Linked DNA regions of Homo sapiens: region 2 is linked to region 1. A link means that fine-mapping ties the variant in region 1 to the expression of a gene that starts in the linked region. Tissue or cell type: subcutaneous fat. Region 1 holds a variant in brackets; the other region holds the start of a gene. All regions are shown on one strand. Distances are from middle to middle.

Region 1 (4,238 bases):
AGCAATTTCTAACATCTTAAGTAAACAGGAAAAGTACACAAAGATGTAGGCACAATTATATTCATCTCAGCATTGTTTTATATTATCAATATATTAGAAATAACTTCAATATTCAATAATAGGGGTTTGGTAAAATAAATTGTACATGTCAGTAGAATAGAGCGGCATTATATAGCCATTAAAATGATAATATAGATACCTTATTGATATAGAAAGATGTCTATAATGTCTCACTAAGCAAATTGCAATACTATACGTTCATCATGATCCTTTTTTTTTGTTTTTTGAGATGGAATTTCGCCCTTGTTGCCCAGGCTGGAGTACAATGGTGCCATCTTGGCTCACCGCAACCTCTGCCTCCCGGGTTCAAGCAATTCTCCTGCCTCAGCCTCCCGAGTAGCTGGGATTACAGGCATGCGCTACCACACCCAGCTAATTTTATATTTTTAGTAGAGACGGGGTTTCTCCATGTTGGTCAGACTCGTCTCGAACTCCCAACCTCAGGTGATTCGCCTGCCTTGGCCTCTCAAAGTGCTGGGATTACAGGTGTGAGCTGTGCTAGGCCCATGATCCCATTTCTATAAAACATATGCTAGAATAAAATCTGGGGCTGGGCGCAGTGGCTCACACCTGTAATCCCAGCACTTTGGGAGGCTGAGGAGGGTGGATCACCAGAGGACAGGAGTTTGAAACCAGCCTGACCAACATAGTAAAACCCCGTCTCTACTAAAAATACAAAAATTAGTCGGTGTGATGGCTGGCACCTGTAATCCCAGCTACTTGGGAGGCTGAGGCAGGAGAATGACCTCCGGGAGGCAGAGGTTGCAGCAAGCCGAGATTGTGCCATTGCACTCCAGCCTGGGCAACAAGAGCGAAACTCCATGTCTAAAAATAAAATAAAATCTGGAAGGCCATAGGAAAATATGACTAGTGGTTATCTCTGGTGATGAGATTGTGGGTATGGTGACCAAATAATTTTTGTACAAACTGGGAGACTTTTGAGAATGAAAGCAAACACTATTAATAATTACCCTCACTAATAGATGAAAATGGGATTGTAAAATGTAAACGAGGGTGCATGGTCACCCTAATTGAGACCTTAATTGAGACCATTTCTTGTGTGTGATTTTTTATTTTCCTTTCTTTCTCCCTTTTTTCTTAAGTAATTATTATTTTTTGAGACAGTCTCGCTGTGTCGCCCAGGCTGGAGTACAGTGGCACGATCTCTGCTCACTGCAACCTCCCCAACTGGGGTTCAAGCAATTCTTGTGCTTCAGCCTCCCAAGTAGCTGGGATTATAGGCACACATTACCACGCCTGGTTAATTTTTTTGTATTTTTATTAGAGATGGGGTTTCGCCATGTTGGCCAGGGTGGTCTCGAATTCCCTGCCTCAAGTGCCTGAGATCTGCCTGCCTCAGCCTCCCAAAATGCTAGGATTTCAGGCGTGAGCCACCATGCCTGACCCCTCCCTTTTTCCCTTTTACAAAAACTATGTATCATTTGTTTAACTAAAAACGAAGGAGAGAGAAGAATGGGGAAAAAAATGAGTCCTTCAATATAACTTCAGTTGAATAAGGAGCCTGTGTGAGTGAACACAGTGAAAGAAATACAAATGGAAATGGGCATTTTAGGGACAGAAGAGACCAGATGGTAGCTTATGTAACCAGTTACCATCTCCAGAAATCTGCTTACTGTTTCTGGGTTGACATACTTCAGATCTTGGTGTTTCC[C/G]TGACACGGTTGGCAGCGCACATACCTAGAAATACACAAGAGCTGAAATAACAGCAAGTATTCCACACCCAAGTTTGAGATCAAAGACCCTTATTTTGTCCTTCTTTCCAAGTGACCCTTAAAACCCCAGAGGCCTTCAAAAAAATCAGTGTCTCTATAAAGTGCATATACATCAAGTCCATTTCTAAGAACTGATCCTAAAGAACAAATCAAGGATGTGTACGAAGTTTTAGATTTCTCTACAAATATATTCATCTTGGTATCATTCATAAGAAAAAATTGTAAAACCAAATATCTTACAAGAAGGGATTTATGAAGAAATTATGAGCAGCCAAAAAAAAAAAAAAAAGAAATAATATGGAGCTATTAAAATGAAATGGGCTGGGCATGGTGGCTCATGCCTGTAACCTCAGTGCTTTGGGAAGCCAAGGAGAGAGAGGATTTCTTGAGGCCAGGAGCTCGAGGCTGAAGTGAGCTATGATCATGCCAATGTACTCCAGCCTGGGCAACAGATCAAGACCTTGAATCTTAAAAAAAGAAAGAATGAAGCATAACTGCTTATTAATATGAAAAAAGATGCCCCTGATATAATTATTAAATGAGAGGAAAAACAACAGATAACAAAACAATATAAACTGTTTTTGTAGAAAAGCAAAAACTGTATTTGTATATGTGTTTGTGAAAACACAGAAAAAAATCTGTAAGAATATGTACCTTCTGCAATTACACAGACAGTAGGGGGGAAAAAAAGAGTATATACTAAGCAATATTACCCTGGTTAATAAAGTTTGGGATAAATTTCTTCATTTTCTACTTTTTCTGTAACAACCAAGTATTATTTACATAATTTTAAAATATGTTTTTAAACAGAAAAAAGGTAAAAAGTCTCATACTTTCCCCTGTTCTGGATCTTCCCAGAAGAATAAGAAATACTTTCTCTCTGGAAAGGCTTAGGGCCTGGATCTACCACTAGAGCACTGTCAGGTTACCAAAGAGTACTTGGTGAGGATGCATATTTACACCAGGCATTCTCGGCAAACAGAGAAGATTCAGATCCAAAATGACTCACTGAAATACAGGATGGGTGTAGCCAAACTCACCTTGGAAAAATCACCAATCAGGTGCCCCTGGTTAGAATCTTCCTCCAGCATCTGAGTGATAGTAATGTCACACAGAGAGACTGTCTTCTTTAAACATAAGCCCTGAAGATGACAAGATTCCCACCCCACACCCAATCCTCATGTTAAAGGTTTAAAAACCAGTGGATGGAGTGGGCCATGGTGGCGCACATCTGTAATCCTAGCTACATGGGAGGCTGAGGTAGGGAGATCACTTGAGCCCAGGAGGCCAAGGCTATAGTGAGCTACGATTGCACCACTGCACTCCAGTCTGGGAGACAGAGTGAGACTCCATTTGTTTATTTATTATTTTTAATAATAAATAAATATTGAGGCTGCAGTGAGTCAAGACCATGCCACTGCAATCCAGCCTGGGTGACAGAGTGAGACCCCATCTCAGGGGAAAATAAATAAATAAATAAATAAGTTGATTTTATAAAATATCCAAAGATTTTAGAATTTTAATTTTTTATTTTATTTTTTTTTATTAGAGATGGGGTCATGCTATATTGACCAGGCTGGTCTTGAACTTCTGACCTTAAGTGATCCTCCCATCTATTTAATTTTTTTAAAGTTGGGGAGGGTAAAGGACAAAGGCTAAGTTTTTCAGAAGTTGCTTTCCACAAAACCAACCTGCTATATGATGTTGTTTCTGTCAGACTGCATGTAAAACAGCAGTAAAATATCCATACCAAAGTTCCCTTGTATTCTTTCAGATCTTAAGAAAAAGGGTTGGGAAGACGGTATGATGACAACATTTCTCTTTTTTTTTTTTTTTTTGAGACGGAGTCTTGCTCTGTTGCCCAGGCTGGAGTGCAGTGGCACAATCTTGGCTCACTGCAACCTCCACCTCCCGGGTTCAAGCGATTCTCCTGCCTCAGCCTCCTGAGTAGCCGGGACTACAGGCACATGCTGCCACGCCCAGCTGATTTCTTGTATTTTAGTAGAGACGGGGTTTCACCGTGTTGCCCAGTCTGGTCTTGAACTCCTGAGCTCAGGCAATCCGCCCGCCTCGGCCTCCCAAAGTGCTAGGATTATAGGCGTGAGCCACTGCACCCGGCCTATGACAACATTTCTAAAAGTACAATATAGATATACTTTATGTATCTATGTTATATAAATATTTTATATATATATATATATTTCACGTGGATACAGATGTAGAAAAGACAGAAAGATGGAAAGAACAAAGAGGAAAAAGTAAAAGTAAAGAGGAAGAAGACAAAAAAGGCATAATAAAACAATCCTCATACCAGAAAAGCAAAGACATGAGATAGAAGATGAACAAGATTTTCATCTTAAAAAGTTCTTACCTTCCTGAGCTTTCCTTGGCCAGAAAAATACTTTTTTTTAACTTTATCTGGTATTGTGTTGTCCTTGAATTTTTC
Region 2 (4,238 bases), 150 kb after region 1:
TTCTTATTAAAAATCTAACAAATCTGTTTGGAGTGGACTAAATTATTCGTGTACCAACCCTTCTAAAATCAACATCAGATTGGGAGTTGGGTTGGAGGTGGGGGATTCATTTCCAGGTCTTCATGACTGTGCTACACCCAGATATTTTTCTTTGCTTGTTGAGACTGTGCCATGTTAGAAAAAAGGAAAGTGCCAGGGTGAGGTCAGTATGGTTTGGGGAATTGGGGGTAAGGGGAAGGGGCCACATGAATTAGAGGGTAGAAAGAGAGACATGTTTCCCCATACTTTATGCTTTGTGAATGGAGTGGGAAAGTTGGGGTCCTCCCTTCCTGTGGCAGAGTCTGGGGGGAAGGGTCATGGTGTGTGGCCTCAGCAAAGTTGGACAGTCTGTGGTGGGATTCTTAAGCAGGCAGCCTGGCTGCCTACATGAAACGTGTGGCCATAGATCCACCTTAGAGATGGTGGGAGACACTCATGTGGGATTTATCAAGCAGTAATTAAAGTGTTTCATTGTGGGGTGATAACAGACTGCATTCCAATTAGGAGATGTTTTCTGGAGAGGAAGTTGTAAAGAATAGCAAGAGGGGTTATCAGAGGCTGCTTTTCTGGAACGTTTTGGGAAACATCTTCCAAAGTGTTTGAACCTGGAAATATAATTTACCAGGTTAGAAATAGACCATTGTGTTGTTCAGGGATACTGAGCTTGAATAAGACCATGACTCTTTGAAATACACAGTTCTGAATGTGTCCTTTCAGCCCAGATGGGCACAGGTTGATGCTGTGGTCACCCGAAGGATTACAACTCAACATAAAGGGTAGAGGAATGCAGAAGCTCTAAAATGGGACAGGAAAGGAGAGCAATAGGGCTGGGGGTGTTGGTGGATGGTTGGAGGTTGGTTGCTTTCCTGAAGATCAGGAGGCAGGCTAGCCTACATTCTGGATATAAATGTCTTTAGAATCAGGACATTCACTGCCACTAGTGCTTGCTGATGGGGGTGGAACTGGAGCCCCAGGACCCTCTCGCAGCCCCTCTGTTTGAAAAGAAGGTTGACCCTTTGTTGTCAGTAACCACATTGAGAGCATAAAGCTCTGTTCCGCTGCAAAGCTTAGGAGCTGACAACCTAAAAAAGCAGACCAGCAGCCCGGTGGCTCACACCAGTGATCCCAGCACTTTGGGAGGCTGAGGCGGGTGGATCGCTTGAGCTCAGGAGTTGGAGATCAGCCTGGGCAATATTGCAAAACCCCATCTTGGCAAAAAAAAACAAAAAACAAAAAAACAGGAATTAGCTGGTGGTGTTTTGGGCCTGTAGTCCCAGCTACTCGGGAGGCTGAGGCGGGAGGATCATTCAAGCCCAGGAGGTGTGCTGAGATTGTGCCACTGCACTCCAGCCTGAGCGACAGAGTGAGGACCTGTCTCAAAAAAACAAAACATCATCTGGTCAGGGGAGATCCTCTTTCAACGGGGTGAGAAGGAGTGGGGTGGACAGGTGCGGCTGTACCTGTGACTCAGGAGCTCAGGTGGATGTCTTCAGGGCCTGTAATGAGGAGAGTTTGCTAGTCAGCAGTTGGGGGATGTAACCTGTTTAAAGTAGGCTTCCTGGGGTCATCTTAGCAGCATGACTTGGTGGCTTTGTGACTCTCAACAGATTATTGAGCCTTAAGCTTCTCATTCCCTTATCTTCAAAATGAGGGCTTTTATAGCGCCTGCCTTATAGGGTGGTCAAGAGGATTCACTGGCAACGCAGTGAAGCTCTTAGCACAGGGGCTGGCACACAGTAAGCGCCTGGTGTGGGCAGGGCAGGAGGTGGGCAGGGGTCGATTTCAGGATGTAACCATGGAGACCTCCACGACAACAGCCTAGGGCTTGAAACCCAAGAAAGATGAACAAGCGATTCGAGGAAGGCAGGGCACTGAGGGTCGGAGGCGCATGCCCGGCCACAGCAGGTGCCGGGGCGGGGGCGCGCCGCCGCCGCCGCGGCGGCCTCCCGGCCTCCCCTTTAAGAGCCGCCACCGCCCACGGCCCGCCGCTGCGGCAGGGACCTCCCCTTTAACGGCGGCGCTGGGCGCTCCGCTGCCCCCGCGGCGGCTGCTGCAGCGGCTGCTGCTGCTACTGCGGCTCCTGCTGCCGCCGCCGCCGCCGCTCGGCCTCAGGCAGCTGCATCCTCGGCCGGGCCGGGTCCCCGCCCCGCGCCGCGCCCGGCCCCGCCATGGTGTCCTGGATCATCTCTCGCCTGGTGGTGTGAGTGCGGCGGCGGCGGGGGGTGATGCGGGCTGTGATGGAGGGCGGGGGTGTTAAAGCCCGGGTGGACTTCTCCGAAGCTTCGTGCAGCAGAGTCACCTAAAGGCGCTGCGTCCTTATTTGGGGCCCCCAGAGACATGGAGATGTGGCACCCAGGACTGGAGGGGGGAATATTAGGGGAGCGTGGCAGGCCTGGCTTCCCAGGGACCTCACCCACATTCTTTATTAATAACCTCTTTTATTTCTACCGTCCTTGCTCCTGCGCCCATCCTAGAGGCTGAGCAGCACGGCTTGATTTAAAAGGGGAGGCAGGCGCGTCCCCTCCCCCACCTAGCAGGTCTGGGCTGGAGGAGATCCTCAGACCCGGGCCCTGTCCCTCTGGGGGAGGTAACAGGGTGATGGAAGAGAGTGGAGCAAGGCAGGGCCTCATCATCATTCCGCAGCTCAGAGCCATCACCAGGCCCCTTGGTCTCTCCCTTCCACTCACTGTCAGGAGACTGGGGACGAGGGCATATGCCCTTAGGCCCCCTAGGGAGGAAGTCTGGGTATCGGGAAGCAGAAATGCTCGGAGGACAAAGTGTGAGAGGTAACTGGGAGAGGGGATGTGTGTGCTCAGCCTGGGATTGTGGACCCCGCTGGGGGAGGACGCTCCGTGGCCTTCATTCCAGGCTGCCAGCCACACTGTGGAGCTGTGTCTCTGGCACCTCCCCGGGCCCCAGGAGGGAACACACACCATTCCCCACGAGCCCAGACTTTGTCCTTGAGGATTCTGCTCCGCACTCCACTTGCACCAGCCGGTTTGGAAGTATCCCTCCTGTCCATGTGGAAACAGGCGACAGCCACACATTGTCAAGGGGCTGAGCCTGACAGGGGCTCCTCGTGGTTCTCGGAGCTATCCCCTGCCCTAATGAGGACACTGCCCCTCGGCCTCCACCGTTGGGGACTGACACCGGCAGCCCCACCCTGCTCCCTTCTTCCCATTCGGTACAGCCGGGCCGGCCAAGTGCTTCTGTCCTGGTTTACTCTAGACTCCTTCTCTTCCCCCACCCATCCCAGGGGGAATGGAGGGGCCTCACGCCTCCATGTGGCCTTCAGGGTGGCTGCTTCTCTCTTGCCTGGGCAAGCCCCAAAGGGCATCGGTCCTCTTCTTTCCCGGCCTGTGTCTTGTCTGCATTCTGTACTTGGATCACCAGCGGGGCCCTCCCCTGAGCCCTGTCCCTGTGGTGTTTACATGGGGGAATAAGCCTCTTTGCCTCTCTCAGGGCCTCCTGCCCCTGTGCCCTCTGTTCCCTAGGGCCCCAGGGCCACAGTGGTACCTCTGCCTGCCAGGTAGGGTGCCCTGTTAGGTGGTGTCAGGTTCCCTCGCAGAGCCTGGCTCTGAGGGAGGTGGAGGGTAAGGGCAGATGGGTGTGAATGGGCATGAGGTCAAGAAGGAAGACACCCTGTGGCAGTGACCTGACTCCCAGTCTCCATGACATATTTGTGTGTAACCAAGGATCATGGCGCAAGGGACTACATTGGACCCTCTGGCCTCTGGGCCTTTCCCTGCCTCCGGGGCTAGAGAAAAACTGAACAGTGGAGCGGGGAGGGGGCATCACCCTACCTGGCTGGGCATGTTCCATGCTGCTTTGACCTTAACCCCTGACCTGAGTTCATCAGTCCAGCGGGGAGTTCTGTCTCTCTTCCCATTACTTACCCAGGGGCTGATGCGGAGCTGGGAGGGAGAGGCCACTGCCCTTGGCTGAGAGGCCCAGTAACCATGCCTGCCTCCCTAGGCTCATCTTTGGCACCCTGTACCCAGCCTATTCTTCCTACAAGGCCGTGAAGACAAAAAACGTGAAGGAATATGTGAGTGGATGACCCTTCACCCCCTACCCAACCCACATGGCACAGAGAGGGGAGGGCACTGGGTCCTATTACAGATGGGGGTGACTTTGCACCAACACTGTCAGCCACTAACAAGACCCACCAGCAAAGGAGGGCCCTGGGTGTCCCACAC

Which allele goes with the higher level. Positions count from the first base shown, and alleles are read on the strand shown. Sizes are in standard deviations (SD) of each study's normalised expression.
With allele C in place of G in region 1, the expression in subcutaneous fat of the gene that starts at base 2,056 in region 2 is lower (large effect, 1.6 SD a copy in FUSION).

Evidence for each region. PIP is the estimated chance that this variant, and not a neighbour inherited with it, causes the effect. A credible set is the group of variants that fine-mapping cannot tell apart.
Region 2: it holds the start of REEP2, and the variant in region 1 is the best candidate, but not a certain one, in a credible set for the expression of REEP2 in subcutaneous fat (FUSION, PIP 0.52).

What each region holds. Positions count from the first base shown.
Region 1 is chr5:138,287,807-138,292,044 of GRCh38, forward strand. It overlaps CDC25C (cell division cycle 25C), which reads right to left. Exons shown (of 14, transcript NM_001790.5): 8 at 4,164-4,238; 9 at 2,833-2,934; 10 at 1,695-1,757. Among named protein-coding and RNA genes, the nearest start is that of GFRA3, 15 kb to the left of the region's middle. The variant C/G (reference allele first, on the strand shown) is at 1,733.
Region 2 is chr5:138,437,002-138,441,239 of GRCh38, forward strand. REEP2 (receptor accessory protein 2) reads left to right here and starts at 2,056. Exons shown (of 8, transcript NM_001271803.2): 1 at 2,056-2,239; 2 at 4,015-4,087. The coding sequence starts at 2,208. It overlaps KDM3B (lysine demethylase 3B), which reads left to right. Exons shown (of 24, transcript NM_016604.4): 24 at 1-26. RefSeq lists a silencer at 1,884-2,303 and an enhancer at 2,689-3,222.